Linked DNA regions of Homo sapiens: region 2 is linked to region 1. Evidence: fine-mapped expression QTL. A gene starts in region 1. The other region holds a variant in brackets. All regions are shown on one strand. Distances are from middle to middle.

The links. PIP is the estimated chance that this variant, and not a neighbour inherited with it, causes the effect.
Region 2: its variant is fine-mapped to the expression of CRYBB2 in thyroid (GTEx, PIP above 0.99).

The regions. Positions count from the first base shown.
Region 1 is chr22:25,218,417-25,221,324 of GRCh38, reverse strand. It overlaps CRYBB2 (crystallin beta B2), which reads right to left and starts at 1,686. Exons shown (of 6, transcript NM_000496.3): 1 at 1,659-1,686.
Region 2 is chr22:25,052,486-25,055,393 of GRCh38, reverse strand. All of the region lies in intron 6 of KIAA1671, which reads right to left. Among named protein-coding and RNA genes, the nearest start is that of KIAA1671-AS1, 59 kb to the left of the region's middle. The variant C/T (reference allele first, on the strand shown) is at 1,597.

The DNA.
Region 1 (2,908 bases):
CCTCTGGCCCCAAACATTCTCTTTTTCTCCTGGTTTCAGACTGTCCCAGAGCTGTGGGGTCCGTAAGCAGCTACTTCAACTTCTGTCCTTAGCTTCATTTATTTCTATCCAGGCCAGCTGCAGGAGGAGGGAAAAACGAGGTCTACTCAAAGAAAGAGAGCAGTAATAAACTAGAGCTTAAATGAGGTCCAAAGTGGGTTCCCAACACTCAACCCCAGACAATGGATACCACACAGAATATAGAATGGTCAATCCCAGAACTTCTGCCTTTATGCAGTAATTTCTTAAATAAAATTGTGTGGAACAAACAAAACCTATGCATTGGCTGTATTTGGTGGTGTGGTGGTGCCCAGTTTAGGAACTCACAAAGTTCCCTGTTCCCCTGCTCCTTCTCCCACCCTCTCCCTGGGACTCCTCTCCCCATCCTGGTACCTAGATTTCTCTTCTCTGCCACTGGTTTTACTCCCCCATTAGTGAAATCATCTGATACAGAACCCACATTACAAGAAAGAGAAGAAATGGGTGCGACGGTAGAAATCCAGGCACTGTGGCAGGCAGCAGGGTAGACCTGCCTTAGCTAGTGAGAACATCAGAAAAGCCTGGAAAATTGTCAGCCTCTTCCCCCTTCCTGCAGAAGGGGTGGTCAAACCAGGCTGTGTTTCCCCAGGGGTAAGAGAGGAAGCCTGGCCTCCCTCTTCAGAGATAACGCCAGCTTCCAGAAGCCCCTTCCACATGAAAGGCCAATACTGGATGTTTCCCAGGAGGAAGAAATGCAGTTAAGCACCTTGGCAGCCAAATCTACTGCTCTCCCGCAAGAAACCAGCCCTCTGGGCTTGTCAGAGTGCCTGAGGTCCTGCCATATCACTTCCCAGTCCTGAGTGTTCACAGACTGAAGAAGCTCAGTTGGTCCAGTTCAGGAGCAGTCTCTGCTGCCTGCCAGAATTGAGACTCTGGGCAGGTCTCATCCTCTCCCTATGCCTCAACTTCCTGTTCTATAAAATGGGGACAGTAATGATGTCTAATAATACCTGTGAACAGGTTGTGAGGATTCAATTATGTAATGTATAAAACCGGAAGCACTTGGCCGTGGTCCCAGAACACACTCAGCATGCAGCAAATGGCAGCAATTGTGGCATTATTAGAGTCATTTCTACCATGCTTTAGTGGCATTGAAATCACCTGTTGCTGGGACCTGTCACATACCTGTGGCTGCATCCTATCCCCTAGCACTCCCAGAGGCTAGGCACAGAGTGGGTGCCCCCTAATTGCAGATGTGGAGGAAAACTGACTCACCCACCTAGAAACAATGCTGAACTGTCACTGGTTTGATTCTTGCAAAACCCTCAGTTACATTCTCCTCCTCAGCGACTGGCGAAACAAGGATGCTGATAGTCTGTTTAATATTAATAATAAAGAACATTGCCCCAATGCCCACTGTGTGCCAGGCACTGTGCTGGATGATCCCCTAACTTCTCTTGAATCCTTACAATAAAGAAGGCTTTTTAACCCCCTTCCCAGTTACCAGAAAAGAAAACTGAGGCTAACAGCATTGAAGTCTCTGCCCAAAGTCACTTGTCAGAATCTGGGTGCTCCCATGCTTGCGGACAGGGGTGAGGATGAGAGAAAGAAGGGAAGACAAGCAAGAGAGGCAATCTTACCAGTGACACCAGCCCCTGCGAGTGCCGTGAAGCTCGGCCAGCGGGAGGTGGCATTTATACCTTCCCCAGAAGTGCCGGTGCCAAGATGAGTGACCGCTGTGCTCCTGCGAAAAGCAGGGTGAGAATGCTGGATTAAGCTCTCACCAAAGCTCGGGTCAGCAAATGCCCACAGACATTGTGTCTCTGCACAATAATGTCATTAGCTTTCAGATTCGGCCGCGCCAGGGCGGTCAGGCGGCTGGGCAAGGAGATGCCCGCTTTGCATGCATCAGCCGTCCGGCTGCCAGGGCCAGGGGTACGCTGGGTTCACTGGTACGGTCAGTCAGGCCGTGAGGCATGGCAGACAGAGGAACATCTCAGTGGGCCTGGGGAAGAACAAGTAAAGAAGGGTGGTTTGGCAGAGTCTGGGCTTCATTCATCTACCCATTTATTCATTCAACAAATATTTGTTGGGCATCCACTTGGTGACAATCTCTGTTCCAGGGGAGTGTCAGGAAGAGGACCTACGCCAGCCCAGGCCATTCAGAAAAGCTCCTGGGAGGTAGCGCATCCCTCAGGGATGGAGAAGAGGAAGCCTGGGAACAGGGTGGGGGGACAGTTCCAAGCAGAAAGGGTCCATATACAAGGAACCAGCATGGTGTATTTCAAGAAGACCTGAAAACAGGTTAACAAAGCTAAAGCATGACATGTGACAAATAGGGCCTGTGCCAGGTGGCCAAGGTGGGCAGGGCCTGATGTTGCAGGGCCAGGGAGGCCAATTATGGAGAGTGCATTTTATTCTCAAGGCCCCTGGCTGTTTCTCTTTCTTTTCTTTCTTTCTTTCTTTCTCTTTCTTTCTTTCTTTCTTTCTTTCTTTCTTTCTTTCTTTCTTTCTTTCTTTCTTTCTTCTCTCTCTCTCTCTCTCTCTCTCTCTCTCTCTCTCTCTCTCTCCCCTCTCTCTCTCTCTCTCTCTCTCTCTCCCCCTCTCTCTCTCTCTTTCTTTCTTTCTCTTTCTTTCTTTTGAGATGGAATCTCACTCTGTCACCCAGGCTGGAGTGCAGTGGTGTGATCTCGGCTCACTGCAACCTCTGCCTCCCAGGTTCAAGCGATTCTCCTGCCTCAGCCTCACCAGTAGCTGGGACTACAGGTGTGCGCCACCAGGTCCAGCTAAATTCTTTTTTTTGCTGTATCTTGTTAGAGACAGGGTTTTGACATGTTGCCCAGGGTGGTCTCAAACTCCTGAGCTCAGGCAATCCATCCACCTTGGCCTC
Region 2 (2,908 bases), 170 kb after region 1:
GTCCTTGTGTGGTCTTTCATTTTGATTGTTTCCTTCTCATTTGGACTCGCTGTCAACCAACTGAAATCTAGAGGGAATCTCTAACTAGCAGCCAGGATATGTTCTTGGGCGGGGGCCACCTCACAAGTTCCCACTTATTTCAAGTTGATTACACTCACAAGGACTACCACTGCTGTCAGCAGAATCCAAATGTTCCTCCCCTCCTTTTTCCAGTCTTAATAACAAAGTCATCAGGTCCAAATGCTCTCAAACCTCTCAACCTTTGCCCTGGCAGATCCTGCGTACAAAGATGCTGGCATGACGATGACACAGCACCAGCCTCAGAAGCAAAGGGCCACAGTTTCACCAGTTAGAGATGTGGGAAAGTCTGAGCTCAGTGTAAAACCAAACACTGCGGGTGTCCAGGAGGGTCACGTGGAAGTCAAGTTTAAAGGACCCCAGATGACATCCGTTGTATAGAGCACAATTTCACGCCTCTAAACCTCTGCCCATGCTGTTCCCTCGATCAGGGGCAAACCACTGTTCCCCAGACCATAGTTACCTGGCAAACACCTGCTCAGCCTTCAAGACTTAGAACTCAGACTCTTTGGTCTCGAACTCCTGCTTCTCAGCTAGCCCTCCCCAAGTGGAGACACCCCCTCCCTCCTCCAGGGAGACTTTACACAAATTCAAATTAAATTAAAGCACATGACATGATGCCTGGCATATAGTAAATGTTCAATAAACAGTAGCTATTAGGGAGCTTCCGGATACCTGAACACAGGGAGGTTCCTGGAGGGTGGCGTGCCCAGGGAGGGCATGGAAGCTCTGCACTCCCTCCCCCATACCTCACCCTACGCATCTCTGCTTCTACAGCTTATCTTTTGTAATAAACTGGCAAACGAAGAGGAAGAGAGACCAGAGACATCTACCTATCACCCACCTCCCACCCTGCATACACAGAAGAGGCTACGCAAAGACAAATGAAGGACACAGCTGTCAGCCACGGAGAGGAGCCTCATTAGAAGCCAGCCTTGCTAGCTCCTTCATCTTGGACTTCTAGCCTGTGTATCTGTGAGAAAGCAAATTTCTGTTGTTTAAGAAAAAAAAAGAAAATTAGCTATTAGAACCCACTGCAATTATTTACCTACCTTCTTTTTTTTTGAGATGGAGTCTCACTCTGTTACCCACGCTGGAGTGCAGTGGCGAAAACTCAGCTCACTAAAACCTCCGCCTCCCGAGTTCAAGCGATTTTCCTGCCTCAGCCTCCTGAGTAGCTGGGATCAAGTGATTCTCCTGCCCCTCAGCTTCCTGAGTAGCTGAGATTACAGGCACGCAACACCACGCCAGTCTAATTCTTCTTTTTTTTTTTTTTTTTTTTGTATTTTAGTAGAAACAGGGTTTCACCATGTTGCCCAGGCTGGTCTCGAACTCCTGAGCTCAGGCGAATCGCCTGCCTAGGCCTCCCCAACTGCTGGAATTATAGGCGTGAGCCACTGTGCCTGGCCTATTTACCTACCTTCTTAATTGTCTATGCCTTAGTCATAACTGTAGCCCACTGCCCAGCATAGCACTTACCACATGCAGATAAATATTTGTCAAAAAAAGGAGCAAAAT[C/T]CCTAAACACTCTACCTCAGCCCAACTGGTCCTCCAAGCACCCCCCTTTGTCTGTGTGAGTTCTCAGTCCCAAATGTCTCCCCTCCTACTTCCTGCACCTAACTGGACCCTCCCAGGTCATTTTCAGACCCCTGGGCTGTGAACTCCAGGAGGCTGACGGAGAAAATCTCCAGGCCCCATCATGCAGGGCCTGGCGCATAGTAGGCCCAAAAAGAAATAAACTCAAGAACCAAATGAGCCAGCATATGCTAACCAATAGGTTTCAGGGATTGGGAGAAAATTCTAGAGACTACCAGAGGCCCTCCCGCTGGCCCATTGCAAGGAAGCCTCCCAGCTGATGAATCTCTGACTTCATCGTCACAAGATGGGCCTCCAGGGTAAACTGTGACTCGAGGTCACAGTCCACAACTGAGTCACTGTGTTTTATGGTCCCTGTGAAAATGCAGACCAAAGCTCACTTCCTGGGGAAAAGAGGAGAGGGAGGAAGCCTGATACAGGACTTGGATTCGCCATGTGGACTCGAGGTCCTGAGGGGAACCCTGAAAGTAACAAGGGAGATGGGGAGAAACAGAGAGCACTGGCCAAGGAGTCACAAAGAAGAACTCCAGCCCCAGCTCTGCCTCTAGAGGCCACAGGACCATACACAAGACACTTCCCTACACTGGGCCTGTCTCCTCAACTGCAGAAAAACTTCTAAGGCTATGGATGTTTGTCTTTCCCATCAGCTCTTTGGGAGAGCATAGAAAAAAAACCTGGCCGCAAATAATAATAAAATAATAATAAGCCGGGTGCAGTGGCTCACACCTGTCATCTCAGCACTTTGGGAAACCAAGGCTGGCGGAAAACTTGAGGTCAGGTGTTTGAGACCAGCCTGGCCAACATGGCAAAACCTATCTCTACTGAAAATACAAAAATCAGCCTGGTGTGGTGGTGCACGCCTGTAGTCCCAGCTACTCAGCAGGCTGAGGCACGAGAATCACTTGAACCCGGGAGGCAGAGGCTGCAGTGAATCGAGATTATGCCACTGCACTCCAGCCTGGGCGGCAGAGTGAGACTCCATCTCAAATAATAATAATAATAATAGCTGCTATGATTTGTGAAGCCATTTCTCGGTGTCAGGCACTGTGCTAAGAGCTTTGTAAGCATCATCTCATTTGGGCTCTGTCCTCCCACCGGGCTACCACGTAAGACGAGTGGAAAGTTCAGCAGACACTTAAGAGCATGGACTGCAGACCCAGAACTTGGAAGAGACACTTAATGGCTCTGAGCCTCAGTTTGCCCATCTGTGAAGTGGAAATAATAGCAGTATCTA